Regions from separate parts of the Homo sapiens genome. Here region 2 is linked to region 1. Evidence: fine-mapped expression QTL. A gene starts in region 1. The other region holds a variant in brackets. All regions are shown on one strand. Distances are from middle to middle.

Evidence for each region.
Region 2: its variant is fine-mapped to the expression of CAMSAP3 in unexposed skin (GTEx, PIP above 0.99).

Annotation. Positions count from the first base shown.
Region 1 is chr19:7,590,068-7,600,543 of GRCh38, forward strand. CAMSAP3 (calmodulin regulated spectrin associated protein family member 3) reads left to right here and starts at 5,796. Exons shown (of 17, transcript NM_020902.2): 1 at 5,796-6,083. The coding sequence starts at 5,936. RefSeq lists silencers at 3,232-3,432, 5,496-5,935 and an enhancer at 6,775-7,380.
Region 2 is chr19:7,565,178-7,575,653 of GRCh38, forward strand. No RefSeq gene overlaps it. Among named protein-coding and RNA genes, the nearest start is that of CAMSAP3, 25 kb to the right of the region's middle. The variant A/G (reference allele first, on the strand shown) is at 5,793.

The DNA.
Region 1 (10,476 bases):
GAGGATTAATGAGACGATGTCGGGCATATAACACTCTCAGAAATTGTCATCTATGAGTCTGATCCCTGAAGTGCACACACAGGTAGAATTTTGCAGATGATTTTATGGGGTTTCACATACTCCCCCAAACCAAATCCTGAACTCCTGACCTATAAACCCTCTAAGTCATCCCCACCCCCAGCTTAATAACCAGGCTCTGTCTAATGAGTTAGGAGGTGTAAGAGCCCAAAGAGCTCCAGGTGTGGGAGGAGGCGGGAGGCTGGAGGGGGGCTCGGGGAGGGGCTGCCCCATGCACACAGGGCAGCCAGTGTGTCTGAGGCTGCCTAGGCCGTAGGAACAGGCCCCCAGGGGCAGGTGGGATCTTGATTCCAGCCTGCAGTGTGTGGGTGGGGCAGTCTAGACCAGCCAGGCTTTCCAGTCCGCCCAGTGTGGGGGTTGGGCCAGTGGAGGCCCCTGGAGGCAGGGACAGGAGCACTTGACCTGCACCAACACCTCTGGACCTGGACGGCCCCCCACCCATCCTTCCCAAACTGCAGCCCCCTCCCGGGATGGGAAGCTGAACCCGTGTATCCACCCCACATCTCCCCGGATTGTGTGTGAGCATGCTGCATTTGCTGCCTTTGCTGGGTTTGTCCTTGGGGTCCACGGAGGTCATGGGAACCATCCCAGGAAAAGCAAACCCACGTGTGAGCCGGCAGGACACGCCAAGCTCACAGAGGGGCAGGTTATGGCAGAAGCACCCTTTCCTGCTGGAAATGCTTCCCCGGGCCAGGAACCCCAGGTCTCCAGATGGGGAAACTGAGGTCCAGTGGGGAAAAGACCTTGTTTAGGTCCTTCGAGGGGACTGGGACAGGAGCCGGGGCATGCGTCATCCACATCAGCACCTGTGCTCACACACACAGACACTGGCCCCTTTGCGCACCCACACCCACTCCTGCACGGGCACATCCAGACAGGAGGGCCCACGCCCCAGCTCCCCTCCCTCGGCACACCCACCCCCATGCCTGCTCACATGCTCCGGACCATGAGACCCACGCCCCAAACACACGTGCCATTTCAACAAAGAGCTAGCTCTGGGGCCACCATCCGGGGTCAAGGGTCTTGGAGACCACCTTGCCACAGCGTCTTTCCATTTCATAGCGTTTTGTTTTTGTTTTTTTTTATGAGACGGAGTTTTTTTGCTCTCATTGCCCAGGCTGGAGTGCAATGGTGCGATTTTGGCTCACCGCAACCTCCACCTCCCAGGTTCAAGCGATTCTCCTGCCTCAGCCTCCTGAATAGCTGGGATTACAGGCATGCGACACCATGCCTGGCTAATTTTGTGTTTTTAGTAGAGATGGGGTTTCTCAATGTTGGTCAGGTTGGTCTTGAACTCCAGACCTCAGGTGATCTGCCCACCTTGGCCTCCCAAAGTGTTGGAATTTATTTATTTATTTATTTATTTATTTTTTTTTTTGAGACGGAGTTTCGCTCTTGTTGCCCAGGCTGGAGTGCAGTGGTGCAATCTCAGCTCACCGCAATCTCTGCCTTCTGGTTTCAAGCAATTCTCCTGCCTCAGCCCCCCAAGTAGCTGGGATTACAGGCATGCACCACCACCTCTGGCTAATTTTTTTTTTATTTTTAGTAGAGATGGGTTTCTCCATGTTGGTCAGGCTGGTCTTGAACTCCGGACCTCAGGTGATCCGCCCACCTCAGCCTCCCAAGGTGCTGGGATTACAGGCGTGAGCCACTGGGCCCGGTCTTTTTTTTTTTTTTTTCTTTTTGAGATGGAGTCCTGCTCTTTCGCCCAGGCTAAAGTGCAGTGGCACGATCTCAGCTCACTGCAACCTCTGCCTCCTGGGTTCAAGCAATTCTTCTGCCTCAGCCTCCTGAGTAGCTGGGATCACAGGCGCCAGCCACCACACACAGGGAATTTTTGTATTTTTAGTAGAGATGGGGTTTCACAATGTTGGCCAGGCTGGTCTCGAATTCCTGACCTCAGGTGATGCACCTGCCTCAGCCTCCCAAAGTGCTGGGATTACAGGAGTGAGCCACTGTGCCCGGCCTGTATGTTATCTTTTTACGTATCACTTTCTGAGTGCATTTGTGTGCATGAAGCTGACATTTACATTTGTGTGAATTTGTGAATATTTGTGTGAGTCTGTGAGCACTTATTCCTGTTCACAAGGTGACAAGGTGCCTATGTATGTGTGTGTGTGTGTGTGTGTTCTGAAAGTAACACACGTTTTTCTTTTCTTTTTTTTTTTTTTTTGAGACAGAGTCTGGCTCTGTCACCCAGGCTGGAGTGCAGTGGCAAGATCTCAGCTCACTTCAACCTCTGCCTCCTGGGTTCAAGCGCTTCTCCTGCCTCAGCCTCCCAAGTAGCTGGGATTACAGGCATGTGCCACCATGCCTGGCTAATTTTTGTATTTTTAGTAGAGACAGGGTTTCACCATGTTGGTCAGGCTGGTCTTGAACTCCTGACTTCAAGTGATCCACCTGCCTCGGCCTCCCAAAGTGCTGGGATTACAGGCTTCAGCCACCGTGCCTGGCCGAAAGTAACACACTTTTCTTTCCAGGCCTGTAAAGAACGAACTCACACAAACACTTGTGCATTCACAATTATATACAGCTAAGAGGCATGCAGGGGATATTTTGACAAAAATACAATGGAGGGCCAAGCACAGTGGCACATGCCTGTAATCCCAGCACTTTGGGAGGCCGAGGTGGGAGGATCCCTTGAGCCTAGGAGTTTGAGATCAGCCTGGGCAATATAAGGAGATCCCATCTCTACACAAAACAAAAAATTAGCCAGGGATGGTGGCTGCAGTGAGCCATGATTGTGCCACTGCACTCAAGCCTGGGGTGACAGAGTGAGATCCTGTCCAAAAAAAAAATAAAACAACAACAACAAAACAAACAATAGAACAAAAGCAAATATTAAAATATTAAAAACATCCGGCTGGGCGCGGTGGCTCATGCCTGTAATCCCAGCACTTTGGGAGGCCGAGGCGGGTGGATCACCTGAGGTCAGGAGATCAAGACCATCCTGACTAACACAATGAAACCCCGTCTCTACTAAAAATACAAAATATTAGCTGGGCATGGTGGCCGGCGCCTGTAGTTCCAGCTACTGGGGAGGCTAAGGCAGGAGAATGGCGCGAACCCGGGAGGCGGAGCTTGCAGTGAGCTAAGATTGCACCACTGCACTCCAGCCTGGGTGACAGAGCGAGACTCGGTCTCAAAAAAAAAAAAAAAAACAAACAGAAAAAAAAAAACCAAAAATCCACAAATCGGTGCTTAGACCTTACAAATAAACACACAATTGCACTCATGTACACAAATATTTGTACTCAACGCGTTCACACACACTTCCATACTTACAGACACAATCAGATTCATACACAGAAATACATTTGCTTACACAGATATGAATTCCTAGATAAATATGCACATTTGAACTCTCACAAAAGCATTCAGACACAGGCATTCTTTTTTTTTTTTTTAATGTGACGGAGTCTCACTCTGTCGCCCATGCTGGAGTACAGTGGTGCAATCCTAGCTTGCTGCAACCTCTGCCTCCTGGGTTCAAGCGATTCTCCTGCCTCAGCCTCCCAAGTAGCTGCAATTATAGGTGTGGGCAACCACGCCCGGCTAACTTTTGTATTTTTAGTAGAGATGGGGTTTCACCATGTTGGCCAGGCTGGTTTTGAACTCCTGACCTCAGGTGATCCACCCGCCTCAGCCTCCCAAAGCACTGGGATTACAGGCATGAGCCACTGCACCCAGCAGAAACAGGCATTCTTGCACAGGTATACCTGCTTTCATGCCTACACAATCTGTCACAGGCACCCACCATATATTCAAATCCACAAAGATACTCACATATAAACACACATATATGCACAAAAATATAGTCAGGAACTGCTCATCATAAATCACACATCTGCTGGGCGCGGTGCCTCAAGCCTGTAATCCCAGCACTTCAGGAGGCCGAGTTGGGCGGATCACGAGGTCAGGAGATCGAGACCATCCTGGCTAACATGGTGAAACCCGGTCTCTACTTAAAAAAAAATACAAAAAACCAGCCGGGCGTGGTGGCGGGTGCCTGTAGTCCCAGCTACTCGGGAGGCTGAGGCAGGAGAATGGCATGAACCCAGGAGGCAGAGCTTGCAGTGAGCCAAGATCGCACCACTGCACTCCAGCCTGAGCGATAGAGCGAGACTCCGTCTCAAAAAATCAATCAATCAATCAATCACACATCCATGTGCATATAGCCAGATTCACATACTCAAATACAAACCCACTTAGACACACAGCCTCACCTCCACACAGAGCCTTCTCCCAGCACACACTGCAGATACCAGAATAATACACAAAGACACTTGCAAATACACCCAGTACAGCTACGCAAGGACACTCATAGACACAAATAGTCACACTCTTGCAGAAATATACACACTTTTTTTTTTTTTTTGAGACAGGGTCTCACTCTGTTGGCCAAGCTGGAGTGCAGTGGCACTATCTCAGCTTCTGCCTCCCTGGTTCAAGCGATTCTCCCGCCTCAGCCTCCCGAGTACTTGGGATTACAGGCATGCACCATTATGCCCGGCTAATTTTTAAAAATTTTATTTTTAGTAGAGACGGGGTTTTGCTATGTTGGCCAGGCTACTCTTGAACTCCTGGCCTCAAGTGATCTGCCCGCCTTGGCCTCCCAAAGTGCTGGGATTACACTCGTGGCCACCGCTCTCGGCCTGAAATACACACACTCTCAATGTCTCTCCATACTCCTGCATTGACAGAGGCATCAATAACAGCCTCATACAACACACCAGTACGTTCAGATGCACAGAGATAGACATACTCACAGCACTCCAAAAACACACACACAGCCGGGCACGGTGGCTGCCGCCTGTAATCCCAGCACTTTGGGAGGCTGAGGCGGGTGATCACCTGAGGTCAGGAGTTTGAGACTAGCCTGGCTAACATGGTGAAACCCCAACTCTACTAAAAATACAAAAATTAGCCGGGAGTGGTGGCGCAACCCCGTAATCCCAGCTACTCGGGAGGCTGAGGCAGGAGAATCGCTTGAGCCTGGGAGGCGGAGGTTGCAGTGAGTCGAGATCGCGCCACTGCACTCCAGCCTGGGAGACAGAGTGAGTGAGACCCTGTCTCAAAAACAAAAACAAAAACAAAAACAAAAAACAGACACACACTCATCACTTCCATCCATCCTCAGGATACAGACATCTATATAATACATATCCTTGTACACACAACAAATTAAACACACACTTACACGTGCCCAGATACATACCCCACACACACACACCCCTAGACACCCCCCAATACACTTGGTCACCACCCAAATGTATTCAGAGATACACAGATACGAAGACACTCATATTCTTGTGCCTTCACTAACATAATCAGAAACAGGTGCACCCAACCACTCTCTGCCTGAGGGCCGGCGTTTATTGCAAGCACTTGCAGGAGCTCCTACGCCTAAGGGTAGACACTGGGGCTGGCACACACAGAGGGTCCCTAATCCTTTCCAGTAAGCTAGGCGCGCGCGCACACACTCACACACGCGCGCGCGCACACATACACACTCAGTCCTCCGCAAGCTCCCTCCACCATCGCCGCAGTCCAGGCCGCCCCCCTCCGCCCCGCCCCTGCTGCTCCGTGCACACTGCAGTGAGGGGCCCGGGCGGGGCGCAGGGGCGCGCCAGGGTCCGGGTCCGGGTTCGGGGGCGGGGCGCACCTGGGCTCCTCCCCGGGGCGGGCCCGACGCAGCGTCGCCAGCGCAAGCGGCCGCACCTGGCTCAGCAGCGGCGGCGGCGGCGGCGGCGGCAGCGGCGGTAGCAGCAGCGGGCCCGGCTGGGGCGCGAGCGCGGCGCAGCCCAGCCCAGCCCAGTCCGAGCGCGGACCCGGCGCCCGCAGCCCCGGCGCCGCCATGGTGGAGGCGGCGCCCCCCGGGCCCGGGCCGCTGCGGAGGACCTTTCTAGTGCCCGAGATCAAGTCGCTGGACCAGTACGATTTCTCGCGGGCCAAGGCGGCGGCCAGCCTGGCGTGGGTGCTGCGGGCCGCGTTCGGGGGCGCAGGTACCGGGGCTCGGGGGACCGGGGTCGGGGGCGGCGGGCCGGGCGCGGCAGGTGCTGGGGGGGGGCGGGGCGCCGGGCCGGGAAGGCAGGGGGCCGTGGGAACAATAGCGCCGGCCGCCGGGGGTCCCCGGGCTCGGGCCCCTGCCGCGCCGGGGCCTCCGAGCTTCCTGCTCGGCCCGGGCGGTGGACTTTGCCCCGCCGGCTGCGGGAGCGCGGTGGGGGTGGGGCCCGCGGCCCAGCTCCGCGCGGGGGTCCCCGGCGTCCAAGCCTCCAGGTGAGCCGGGCGGGGTCTGCGGGCCGGGTGGGGTCTCCCCGTGCGGACCTCTCGTTCCCGCCTCCCGCACCCCCAAGGCCTTCCCTTGCACGCCTTCTTCTCTTTTACACACATCACGCCCCTGCGAGGATCTCCTCTCGGTCTCTTCCCCCGCCACACACCCTGGAGACCCAGACCCCGACCTCGCTGGGGGGTCTCGAGCGCTCCGGTCTCCACCACCGCACGACCCCCAGGCCCCAACACACACCCCGCGTCGGCCCTGGCCGCGCTGCGGGCGGCGACCGGGGAGCTCTGGGAACCCCCTTTCGCCTCCATAGCCCCCTCCAGCGCCTGGCAGCTGCGACTTATGGCCCCATTTTACTGGGGAGGTTGGCGAGCCCAGCTGAAGGGAAATGGGTAGTACAAGATCGCCTGGGGTGGGCCCCCCGCTCCTCCCGGCTGCGGGGCCTTCTCCCATTAGAGCAGATCCTTCACTCCCTCCCCCAGGCCCGCTTGCCTGAGAGCCCGAGCCACCCTAATGGGGAGGATGCCGTAATCCCGGGTCCCCGGGATTAGAGGCCCTGGAAACACTCAGTCTCGGCTTTGGGCAGCTTCACAACCCCAGGCCAGAGCTAGGAGTCAGGGCCTGGCCAGAGAAGACAGGGGTTAATTAAGGTCTGGGCTTTCCAGCGGGGAGCTGTGGGGGTACATCCTTTTCTCCCACTGGTTCTGCCCACTGGTGTTGGCACAGCCCATCCCCCCTCTCCCTGGCCTTCCCAGATCAACCTGTTCTGGGTGTGGGTCTCAGTGACAGCTGTCCGTCTCCTGGTTCCGCCCCAGCCTGTCCCTCTTTCTCCCAGACAGTCTCTGTCTGCGTCGTTCCATGCATGCATTTCCCACTCTGGGGTCTACCTCCCTGCAGATATTTGCTTGAGGAAGAAAGAGATTGGGCATTGGACAGCCAGGACAGCCCCAGCTCCTCACTTCCAAGGTTACCAGGCTGTAGAGAACTCAACGTGGAGTGTCAGAATTGAATGTGAAGTCCAGCTGCACCAGAATGCGAATTATCCCAATTATCTGAGCTTCTGTTTCCCCTTCTATAAAAGAAGGCGTTCATTCACAGACTTATCTGTTTTGCGAATGTTTGTGGGGCAGGGGCACTTGCTATGTGTAGGGCACTGCTCCAGTGATGGAGACCCCCCGTTACCTCTTTGCAAGGTTGCTGGGAGGCGTAAAAGCTGTAGTGACCACAGAATTCTTCGCGTGGCACGGGGCGCGTGATACATGCGAAACGGTTGCTCGCTGCTGGTGTGATTGGCGGTGGTATATTTTGATGAATAATATTAACGTTATCCATTATCCCCTGGCCAGGAATCAGAGTAGAAATTATCCCATTTTGAAGACAGCAAAGCAAACTTCTGATGAGGGGTGTTGGTGAGCTCCCAGTGCCCTGACTCACCCAGTTCTGTTCTTGTTGACCCAGCTCCCTCTGCTGTGTGACACACGGCAGTGGCTGCCTCTACCGTGAGGGTCAAGTTCAATCTGTTCCCTGTTCCACTCCCCTAAAAAGAGGAGAAGGGCTGAAGGAAATGGGAGCAGAGTTCTACAAGATTCATGAGCTCTGGGGACTCTTGACGGTATGATACCTATCAGGTGCTGGGCTGGGCGCTCAGGGTGTAGAGGAGACGGCAGGGGATGGATATGGGGCAGAGGGGGATGGGCAGGAAACCAGATCATAGGGAAGCTGGCCAGCGGGGCCTGGGGAAAGAAATTCTTGAAATCTTCCAGGGAGGGAAGAGATCCCACAGGTGGAAAGATTTGAGTCTGGAAGGATGCATGGAAGTTTGACACGGAGAAGAGATGTGTGGGCAGTGGGCAAAGGCTCGGAGTGTGGACCAGCAGGGAGTTCTCAGAGAATAAGATGCAGGTCCCCGGGGTGGCGGTGGGAGATAAGGGAGGCTGGTCAGACTGAGGAAGGCCCTTCAGGCCCCTGGTTATGGATCCAAGGGTACTGGGGAGCCACGGACAGTGTTGGGAACTGACAAGATCAGGTATGCAGTGGCCCCGTGGGAGTAGTGATGGCTCAGAGGAAGGGATAGTTCTGGCAACTCCAAGGCACAGGTGTGAGAAGGCTGTGCAGAAATAAAAGCAGAACACAAGCTTGGAGATTAGATAAGAAAGGGTTCCAAGCCTGGCCAACACGATGAATCCCCGTCTCTACTAAAAATCCAAAAATTAGCCGGGAATGATGGCACACGTCTGTAGTCCCAGCTACTTGGGAGGCTGAGGCAGGAGAATTGTTGAACCTGTGAGGCGGAGGTTGCAGTGAGCCGAGATTGCACCACTGCACTCCAGCCTGGGTGAAAGAGAGAGACTCTGTCTCAAAAAACAAAGGGTTCCATGTTAAACACATTTGGAAAACACCCCATGCAGTTCTTTATGCCTTCAGAACAGATGTGTGATGTGTGAGGGAAACTCAAGTTCATGTTGGACATTTTTATCCTGGACAAGTTATCTCAGCTCTCCAGGCCTTGGTTTTCTCATCTGTACAAGGGGTATAATAATAAGTGTCGTAAGGATTAAATGACTGGATGCAGGGAAGGTCATGGTATAAATAAATGGTTGGGTGTGGTGGCATGGGCTTGTAGTCCCAGCTACTCAGGAGGCTGAGGCAGGAGGATTGCCTGAGCCCAGGAGTTCCAGGGTACAGTCAGCTATGATCACGCCACTGCACTCCAGCCTGGGCAACAGAGTGAGATCCTGTCTCAATCAGCCTTCCATCCATCCATCCACCCATCCATCTACCCACTCATCCATCCATCCACCCACCCATTCATTCATCCATCCATCCACCCACCCACCTACCCACTGCACTCATCCATCCACCCACCCACCCCACTCATCCATCCACCCACCCCACTCATCCATCCACCCACGCACTCATCCATCCACCCATCCATCCACCCACTCATCCATCCATCCACCCATCCATCCACCCATTCATTCATCCATCCATCCATCCACCCACCTACCCACTGCACTCATCCATCCACCCACCCACCCACCCACCCCACTCATCCATCCACCCACGCACTCATCCATCCACCCATCCATCCACCCACTCATCCATCCTTCCACCCACCCATTCATTCATCCATCCATCCATCCATCCATCCATCCATCCACCCACCCACCTACTCACCGCACTCATCCATCCACCCACCCCACTCATCCATCCACCCACCCACCCACCCCACTCATCCATCCACCCACCCCACTCATCCATCCACCCACGCACTCATCCACCCACACACTCATCCATCCACCCACCCCACTCATCCATCCAACCACGCACTCATCCATCCACCCACTCATCCACCCGCCCATCCATCCACCCGCCCATCCATCCACCCACCCACCCACCCATCCACCCACCCACCTACCCACCCACACACTCTCCCACCCACCCATCCACCTATCCACCCATCCATCCACCCACCCATCCACCCATCCATCCATCCACCCACCCACCAACTCATCCACCTACCCACCCACCCACTCATCCACCCACCCACCCATCCACCCATCCATCCACCCGCCCACTCATCCATCCACCCGCCCACTCATCCATCCACCCGCCCACTCATCCATCCACCCGCCCATCCATCCATCCACCCACCCATCCATCCACCTACCCACACTCCCACCCAGCCATCCACCCACCCACCCTCCCACCCATCCACCCACCCACCCTCCCACCCATCCACCCACCCACCCATCTACCCATCCGTCCGTCCATCCACCCACCCACCCATCTATCCTTCCACCCACCCACCCACCCACTCATCCATCCACCCATCCACCCACCCACTCATCCATCCACCCACCCACCCACTCTCCCACCCTCGCACCCACCCACCAACTCATCCACCCACCCACCCACTCATCCACCCACCCACCCATCCACCCATCCGTCCACCCGCCCACTCATCCATGCACCCGCCGACTCATCCATCCACCCGCCCATCCATCCATCCACCCACCCACCCACCCCCTCATCCATCCACCCACCCTCCCACCGTCCCACCCATCCACCTATCCACCCATCCACCCACCCACTCGTCTACCCATCCATCCATC
Region 2 (10,476 bases), 25 kb before region 1:
GCTTGAGCCCAGGAGTTTGAGACCAGCCTGGGAAACATAGCAAGACCTCATCTCTAAAAAACTTTTTAAAATCAGCTGAGCATAGTGGCATGCACCTGTAGTCTCGGCTATTTGCGAGGTCGAAGCAGGAGAATCGCTTGAGCCCAAGAATTCGAGGCTGCAGTGAGCTATGATTTCACCACTGCACTCCAGCCTGGGCGACAGAGTGAGACTGTCTCTAAAACAAAAGTAGTCACTATCTGGAATGTTTTGGGTCACTGTGACTGAGGAAAGACATCTCTGGAAGGCCTCATACCCATCATTAAATACTCTGGTCCAGAAATGATGCAATACTTTTATCTCACTGCTCATTGGCTAGAAAAAGTCACATGGTCCTACCCAACTGTAAGTGGCCAGGAAAAAACAGCCCTACCATGTGCCCAGAAGAGAGAGCATTGGAAATATTTGGTGATCATCACTAATGATCAACAGGCTGGGCTGCAGTAGCTCACGCCTGTAATCCAAGCACTTTGAGAGGCCGAGGCGAGTGGATTGCTTGAGCTCAGTAGTTCGACATCAGCCTGGGCAACATGGCAAAACCCCATCTCTATCAGAAATACAAAAAATTAGCCAGGCATGGTGGTGTGAGCCCGAAATCCCAGATCCTAGGGAGGCTGAGGTAGGAGGATCACTTGAGCCAAGGGAGGTCTAGGCTGCAGTGAGCCATGATCATGCCACTGCACTCCAGCCTGGGCAATAGGGCGAGACCCTGTCTCAAAAAATTAAAATAAAAACAAACAAAAAACAAACTATTGACTAACAGAGTTGGAACTGAGCCTCAACTGGACCTTCCTGGACTCTCTAGGCTACCCCTCTCTGGTTCCAGAGCTTGAGACTCAGCTAGCGCCAAGAAATTTTGAGGTTACAGTGAGGACCTGGGTTCAGGGTCAGGGGCCCTGTCCTGCAATCCACAGGAGCTGGCCACGAGGTGTGGACCCAAGAGACTGATAAAGTCACATTCTCAAGAGTGTTTTCTTGGTCTCTCTCTCTCTGTCTCTCTCTGTCTCTCTCTGTCTGTCTCTCTGTCTCTCTCTCCCCCTCTCCCTCTCCCTCTCCTCTTTTTCTTTCTTTCTTTGACAGAGTCTCTATCTGTCACCCAGGCTGGAGTGCAGTTGTGTGATCTCGCCTTAGCGCAACCTCCACCTCCTGGGCTCAAGTGATTCTCCCACCTCAGCTTCCTGAATAGCTGAGATTATAGGTGCATGCCACCATGCCCAGCTAATTTTCTTTTTAATTCTTAGTAGAGATGGGGTTTTGCCATGTTGGCCAAGCTGATCTTGAACTCCTGACCTCAAGAAATCTGCCTGCCTTGGCCTCCCAAAATGCTGGGATTACAGGCATGAGCCACCGCACCCAGCCTCTTGGTGTGTTTGTTGCCCAGTGTCTGGAAATGGCCATGTAGAGGTTGGACAGGGAAGAACCAACCTGGTCAGGCTGTAGGACATCTTTTGGCCACCCAGGCCAAGTGCAGTGGCTCATACTTGTAATCCCAACACTTTGGGAGGCCAAAGCAGGAGGATCGCTTGAGGCCAGGGGTTCAAGACCAGCCTGGGTGACATAGTGAGACTCTGACTCTATGAAAAATATTAAAAGTAGCTGAGTGTGAGGGTGGGCTTCTGTAGTCCCAGCTACTTGGGAAGCTGAAGTTAGAAGATCGCTTGAGCCCAGGAGTTAGAGGCTGCAGTGAGCTATAATTGCACCACTGCACTCCAGCCTGGGCAACAGAGTAAAACCTTTTATAAAAATAATATTAATAATAAGTTTAGGCCAGGCACAGTGGCTCATGCCTGTAATCTCAGTACTTTGGGAGGCCAAGGCAGGTAGGTCACTTGATGCCAGGAGTTGGAGACCAGCCTGGCCAACATGGTGAAACCCCTTCTCTACTAAAAATACAAAATAGCTGGATGTGGTGGTGCGTGCCTGTAATCCCAGCTTCTTGCGAGGCTGAGGCACGAGAATTGCTTGAACCTGGGAGGCAGAGATTACAATGAGCCGAGATCATGCCACTACGCTCCAGCCTGGGTGACAGAATAAGCCTCTATCTCAAAAAATAAATAAACAAATTAAAAAAAATAAGAGGCTGGGCATGGCGGCTCACACCTGTAATCCCAGCACTTTGGGAGGCTAAGGCAGGAGGATTGCTTGAGCCCAGGAGTTTGAGGCTGCAGTGATCTATTATCACACCACTACACTCCAGCCTGGGTGACAGAGCAAGACCCTATCTCTGAAACAAAAATAATAACAAAAAAAGCAAAAAACAGGGAATTTTCCTTTCCTTCTTTATTGCCAGAAAGGAAAAAAAAAATCAGGGTCCTACATTTGCACAGATTGGCAGGTTCTGCCCATTGCTAGCCAGCTGACCTTGGGCTTCCCTTCCCCCATTCTCAAATTTGTCACCTGTGTATTCTACCTAATTTTAGTCCCAGTGGGTTGCTTTGTAATTTATCTTTATTTTTATTTTTTTGAGATGGAGTTTTGTTCTTGTTGCCCAGGCTTGAGTGCAATGGCATGATCTTGGCTCACCACAACCTCCGTCTCAGCTCACCGCAACCTCTGCCTCTGGAGTTAAAGCGATTCTCCTGCCTCAGCCTCCCGAGTAGCAGGGATTGCAGGCATGTGCCGCCACACTTGGCTAATTTTGTATTTTTAGTAGAGACAGGGTTTCTACATGTTGGTGAGGCTGGTCTTGAACTCCCGACCTCAGACGATCTTCCCACTTTGGCCTCCCAAACTGCTGGGATTACAGGCGTGAGCCACCATGCCCGACCTGTGATCTAAATAAAAGGAAACAGGCTGGGCGTGGTGGCTCACACCTGTAATCCCAGCACTTTGGGGGGCCAAAGTGGGAGGATCGCTTGACGTCAGGAGTTCGAAACCAGCCTGGGTAACATAGTGAGACCCCCCCCCCCGTCTCTAATAAAGAATAATACATTAATAAAATAAAATAGGCCAGGCACGGTGGCTCACGCCTGTAATCCCAGCACTTCGAGAGGCCAAGACGGGTGGGATCACCTGAGGTCAGGAGTTCGAGACCAGCCTGGCCAACATGGTGAAACCCCGTCTTTACTAAAAATACAAAAATTAGCTGGGCGTGGAGACGCACGCCTGTAATCCCAGCTACTCAGGAGGCTGAGGCAGGAGAATCGCTCGAACCCAGGAGGCAGAGGTTGCAGTGAGCTAAGATCGTGCCACTGCGCTCCAGCCTGGGCGACAGAGCAGGACACCGTCTCAAAAAAATTAATAATAAAATAAAACTAAGATAAAACAAAACAGAGCTCCTTGCAGGAGGAAACTGACGCACACACCTACCTGGACCAGATTCTTACTTTTCTGCCACCAGGGGGCGGTCCTGCTATGGCGTTCAGGCGTCTGGCTCCGGGGTGGAGCTTTGCTGACTAGGGGAGGGTTAAGCACCGAGTAGCTGTGGGCTGACTTACTGCTTTTTTTTTTTTTTTTTTTGTCGTTTAGAATTAACATTTATTGGAAAGGAGGGGAGGGGAGGGAGTACTGTTCTCATTATAAAATCATTACCTGTGTGCTTCAGCCAGGTGCAGTGGCTCATGCCTGTAATCCCAGCACTTTGGGAGGCTGAGGCAGGTGGATCACTTGAGGTCAGGAGTTCGAGACCAGCCTGGACAAGAAGATGAAACCCCGTATCTACTAAAAATACAAAAAATTTAGCCGGGCGTGGTGGTGGTCGCCTGTAATCCCAGCTACTCGGGAGGCTGAGGCAGGAGAATCACTTGAACCCAGGAGGTGGAGGTTGCAGTGATCTGAGATCACACCACTGCACTCCAGCCTGGGCAACAGAGTGAGACTCCATCTCAAACAAACAAACCCACAAACAAATTATTACTTGTGTGCTTAGAACAAATTTATAAAACAAATGCAACATAAACATAAAGGTAATATGTGTTCATTTGGAAATATATGTTCATGGAAAGCAGAGTGTAAAAAAAGAAAAGGTCACAGGAATTCCACCGCCTGGATGTGAACACTGCTAATACTCCCTTCTTTTTTCCCAATTTCCTTCCTTTTGTTTTGTTTTGTTCTGTTTTGTTTTTTGAGATGAAGTCTCACTCTGTCGCCCAGGCTGGTGTGCAGTGGTTTGATCTCGGCTCACTGCAACCTCCGCCTCCCGGGTTCAAGCGATTCTCCTGTCTCAGTCTCCTGAGTAGCTGGGATTACAGGCATAAGCCACCATGCCCAGCTAATTTTTGTATTTTTAGTAGAGATGGGGTTTCACCATGTTGGCCAGCTGGTCTTGAACTCCTGACCTCAGGTGATCTGCCCACCTTAGCCTCCCAAAGCAATGGGATTACAGGCGTGAGCCCCAGTGCCTGGCCCAGAGTCAGTTTTTTATTCTGCAATCAATTTAAATGTCCTAGATTTGCTTTTATTGCAAGTCAGTGCCTTGAAAGAAAAGATGAGAGCGTTTGATGACATGAAAACATGCTTAACAAAGACAGAAGACAAACAAAGCCAATAGCCTGGAAGGAAATATTTGTCACATAAATTAGGCAGATGATCGAGCTTTGTTCATGTTTATTGAACACTTACTATTATATATACCAGCCATTGTTTGGGGGGGGTTGTATTTATCAAATAACTTAATTTTTAGCCCTTTGATATAGGTAGTATTATTATTTCCTTTTTTATCTTTTTGGTGTTTTTGTTGGTGTTCTTGCTGTTTTTGAGAATGGGTACCGCTCTGTCGCCCAGGCTGGAGTGCTATTGGGCAATCATATCTCACAGCAGCCTCGACCTCCTGGGCTCAAGCAATCCTCCCACCTCAGCCTCCCCAGTAGCTGAGACTACAGGCCCCTGTCACCACACCTGACTAATTTGTTTTATTTTTTCAAAGTGAGATGGCGGAGGCGGGTGGGGGGTCTCACTTTGTTGCCCAGGCCGGCCTCGAACTCCTGGGCTCCAGCGATCCTCCTGCCTCAGCTTCCCAAAGTGCTGGGATTACAGGTGTGAGCCACCATGCCCGGCCAGTTTTCACTTCTTAATTTGGCAAATGCTAAAAATATTAACACATCCAGTCACACTGAAAGTTGGGTGAATAAGAAACATCTTCACAGTGTTAGGCTGGGAAACTGTCAATTATGGAGATTTTAGGGGGAAGGGAATTTGACTGTCATCATGCAACAAATTTTTTTTTTTTTTTTTTTGAGACGGAGTCTCGCTCTGTCGCCCAGGCTGGAGTGCAGTGGCGTGATCTCGGCTCACTGCAAGCTCCGCCTCCTGGGTTCATGCCCTTCTCCTGCCTCAGCCTCCCAAGGAGCTGGGACTACAGGCGCCCGCCGCCACGCCCGGCTAATTTTTTGTATTTTGAGTAGAGACGGGGTTTCACCATGTTAACCAGGATGGTCTCGATCTCCTGACCTTGTGATCCGCCCGCCTTGGCCTCCCAGTAAACAACAAATATAAAGCGCATAACTTTTGACCTAGCCGGGTTTCGTCCAACAATCAATCCTCTATAAACGCATGCGTCTAAAGATGTGTGTTCCTCACAGCGCTTTTCTGCAATGATGCCGTTGCTTATAAAAGTGAAAATTGGAAAACAGTCTCAGTGACTGACAACAGAGGCATAGTTTAATAAATTAGGGCACAGTACCTTACGGGAATGCTCTGAAGCCATTAACAAGAATGAAACAGACTTATAGCTATTGACATAAAAAAAATTCCTAGGTACTCTGCTCCACGGATAAAAAGAGTCATAGAACATTGTGTACAGTATGATCACATTT[A/G]CGTCCAAGACCGTCCATGACACACAGGTTTGTACATGCACGGGATGCCCTGGGAGGATAGTTCCTTGGGAAGAAATATCAGGGTGGGAATTTAAGGGGGAGAATTTCAATATTTTTACTTTTCTACTGTTTGACACTTTAACAATGAGATTGCATTATTGTGATAATTTTTAAATTTATTTGATAATTTTTAAAGCCCCCAGAAATGATCCTGTTTTGAAATTGTTAAATATTTCTTTTTGTTTTACTTATTTATTTATTTTCGAGACAGGGTCTCATCCCATCACCCAGGCTGTAGTGCAGTGGCACTGTCTCAGCTCACTGCAGCCTCTGCCTCCTGGGTTCAAGTGATCCTCCCACCTCAGCCTCCCAAGTAGCTGGGACTACAGGGCATGTACCACCATGCCTAGCTAATTTTTTTATTTTTAGTAGAGGTGAGGTCTCCCTATGTTGCCCAGGATCGTCTCAAACTCCTTGGCTCAAGCAATCTGCCTGCCTTGGCCTTTCGAAGTGCTAGGATTACGGGCATGAGCCACCTTGCCTGGCTCTTTTTAAATTTTATTATTTTTTATTTTACAAAAGTAGAGACAGGGTCTCACTGTTCTGCCCAGGCTGGTGTTGAACTCCTGGGCTCAAGTGGCTGGCCCACCTCCACCTCCCAGAGTGTTGGGATCACGGGCTTGAGCCATCGCACCTGGCCTAAATATTTCTTTAAAATGACAGAAAGCCGGGCATGGTGGCTCACTCCTGTAATCCCAGCACTCTGGGAGGCCGAGGCAGGCGGATTACCTGAGGTCAGGAGTTCCAGACCAGCCTGGTCAACATGGCAAAACCCCATCTCTACTAAAAATACAAAAATTAGTCCCAGCTACTTGGGAGGCTGAGGCAGGAGAATCGCTTGAACCCGGGAGGTGGAAGTTGCAGTGAGTCGACATCGCACTACTGCACTCCAGCCTGGACGACAGAGCAAGACTCTGTCTCAAAAAACAATAACAAAAACAAAACAGAAAATAAAACATAACAGAAGACAGGCAGAGCAACAGTCTGGGAGGAAATATTTGTCACATCAATTAGGCAGAATATCAAGCATTGTTCATGTTTATTGAACACTTATTGTATACCAGCCACTGTTTTGAGGCGGGGGGGGGTTATGGTTATATTTATCAAGTAACTTAATCCTGTGATCATGGTTGTTTCTGACATTTCAGTGTTATGAATGAAACCGGGATGAATATCTTTTTTTTTTTTTTTGAGATGGAGTTTCACTCTTATTGCTGGAGTGTAAAGGCACGATCTCAGCTCACTGCAACCTCCATCTCCCGGGTTCAAGCAATTCTCCTGCCTCAGCCTCCTGAGTAGCTGGGATTACAGGCATGCGCCACCACGCCTGGTAAATTTTGTATTTTTAGTAGAGACAGGGTTTCTCCATGTTGGCCAGGCTGGCTCGAGCTCCCAACCTCAGGTGATCCACCCGCCTTGGCCTCCCAAAGTGCTGGGATTACAGGCATGAGCCACGGCGCCCGGCGAGGGGATGAATATGTACGAATCTTCACGTGCATCTGTGAGGATATCTTTATGTTATCTCTAATTTTTGTGTTTGGTTTATTTCAGAGTTGGGATCTCACTATGTTGCCCAGGCTGGTCTTAAACTGGACGATTCTCCGGCCTCAGTCTCTCAAAGCGCTGGGATTACTGACAAGCCACTGCCCCAGTCCTGCTTAGTTTTCTTTACATTACAAAGCAAACTTTTGTGTCAGGGACTAAAATCAGGTAGAATACAAAGATGGTAAAACAGTCTGGGAGAGCTTAAACCCGAGGCCATCTAGCTGGCAAGCGGCAGAACTTGCCACTCTGTGCACGTTCAAGTCCCTGTTCTTTTGTTTGTTTCTTGTTTTTTTTTTAGAGACAGGTTCTCTCTCTGTCGCCCAGCTGGGAGGGAGTGCACAGGCATGATCATAGCTCAGTGCAGTCTCCACCTCCTAGGCTCAATCGATCCTCCCACCTCTGCCTCCCAAGTAGGTGGGACTAGAGGCATGCGACACCATGCCTAGCTCATTTTTAATTTTTTTTTTATAAAGACGGAGTCACGGCTGGGCACAGCAGCTCATGTCTCTAATCCCAGAACTTTGGGAGGCTGAAACCAGCAGATCACGAGGTCAGGAGTTCAAGACCAGCCTGGCCAACATAGTGAAACCCCGTCCTACTAAAAATTCAAAAATTAGCCAGGAGTGGTGGCAGGTGCCTGTAATTCCAGCTACTCAGGAATGCTGAGGCAGGAGAATCACTTGAACTCTGGAGGCAGCGGTTGCAGTGAGCTGAGATCATGCCACTGCACTCCAGCCTGGGGCAACAGAGTGAGACTTAGTCCTAAAAAAAAAAAAAAAAAAAAAAAAAAAAAGCCAGGCATGGTGACTCACACCTATAATCCTAGCCCTTTGGGAGGCTGAGGTGGGTGGATCACCTGAGGTTGGGAGTTCGGGACCAGCCTGGCCAACATGGAGAAACCCTGTCTGTACTAAAAATACAAAAATTAGATGGGCGTGATGGCGCATGCCTGTAATCCCATTTACTCAGGAGGCTGAGGCAGGAGAATCGCTTGAACCCAGGAGGTGGAGGTTGTGATAAGCTGAGATGGCGCCACTGAACTCCAGCCTGGTCAACAAGAGCCAAACTCCATCTCAAAAAAAAAAAAAGATATTGATTTTTAAATTTTTCAATTCCCAATTATTCATTGTTATCGTGTAGAAATACAGTTTAGTTTTATATATAGACCTTGTATTCTACAACTTCACTAAATCACTTACTGGATCTAGTAGGTTTTTTGTACATTCATTCTGATTTTTTGTGTAGATGATGTTTTATTTTTCTTTCTTTTCATATATGTTCGCTATCATCTTTCTCTTCTTTCCAAGTCTGTGTGCTTTTTATTTCATTTCCTACCTTATTGCACTGTCTGGGACTTCCAATACAATACTGAATAGAGGTAGTAAGAACAGACATCCTTGGCCAGGCATGGTGGCTCACGCCTGTAATCTCAGCACTTTGGGAGGCCAAGGTGGGCGGATCACCTGAGGTCAGGAGTTCGAGACCGGCCTGGCCAACAATGCGGAACCCCGTCTCTACTAAAAATACAAAAATTAGCTGGGTGTGGTGGCATGTGCCTGTAATCCCAGCTACTTGGCAGCCTGAGTTGGGAGAATCGTTTGAACCTGGAAGGCAGAGGTTGCAGTGAGATGAGATCGTGCCACTGCACTCCAGCCTGAGGGACAAAGCAACAACACCCTGTCTCAAAAAACAAAACAAAAACCAGGCTGGGCGCGGTGGCTCTCGCCTGTAATCCCAGCACTTTGGGAGGCCGAGGTGGGCAGATCACGAGGTCAGGAGATCGAGATCATCCTGGCCAACATGGTGAAACCCCGTCTCAACTAAAATACAAAAAAAAAAAAAAGAAGCCAGGCAAGGTGGCACGCGCCTGTAATCCCAGCTACTCAGGAGGCTCAGGCAGGGGAATTGCTTGAACCTGGGAGGCAGAGGTTGCAGTGAGCTGAGATCGCGCCACTGCACTCCAGCATGGCGACAGAGAGACTGTCTCAAAAAAAAAACAAAACAAAACAAAACTGGACATCCTTACCTTGTTTCCAATCTTAGGATAAAACATTGAGTCTTACTATTAAGTATGATATTAGCCATGTTTCATGTATTTCTTTGTTTAATCTCTTAATTTGGCAATTCCATTGATTGATTTTATTTTATTTTATTTATTTTTTTGAGACAAGGTCTCCCTCTTATCCCCCAGGCTGGAGTGCACTGGCGCGATCTCAGCTCACTGCAACCTCCGCCTCCCGGGTTCAAGCGATTCTCCTGCCTTGGTCCCCCGAGTAGCTGGGATTGCAGGTGCCTGCCACCACACGCAGCTAATTTTTTTATTTTTAGTTGAGACGGGGTTTCACCATGTTGGCCAGGCTGGTCTCGAACTCCTGACCTCAGGTGATCCACCTGCCTCAGCCTCCTAAAGTGCTGGGATTACAGGCATGAGCCATCACACCCGGCCACTTTTTTTTTTTTTTTTTAAACAGAGTCTCTCTCTGAGCCACCTTGCCCAGTCCCATTGATTGATTTTCAAATGCCGAACCCACCTTGTATCCCTCGGACAAATTCCACTTGATCAGGACATGTTTTCCTCTTTATATACTCCTGGACTCAATTTGCTAATATTTTGTGATGGATTGTTTGTATCGATGTTCCTGAAGAATATTGGTCTGTACTTTTCTTTCCGGGCATGGTGGCAGGTGCCTGCAATCCCAGCTACTCAGGAGGCTGAGGCAGGAGAATCGCTTGAACCAGGGAGGTGGAGGTTTGCAGTGAGCCAAGGTTGTGCCATTGCACTCCAGCCTGGGTGACAAGAGCAAGACTCCATCTCAAAATAAAATAAAGGCGTAGTGGTTTTGCATTTTGAGGAACTTGTCTATGTCAGGTAAATTGTCAAATTTATTGCCACAGAGTTGTTCATAAAATTTCCTCATTATCCTTTTAATGTCCATAGGGACTGTAGTGATATCCCCTCTTTTACCTCAGTGTGCAAATGCTTTTCAAGCCTCTGCTTCTCTCACATTTTCTATTGTCCCATTGGCCAAAATAAGTCATATGGCCAAACCCTGAGTCAGCATGGGAGGGGACTCCCCAA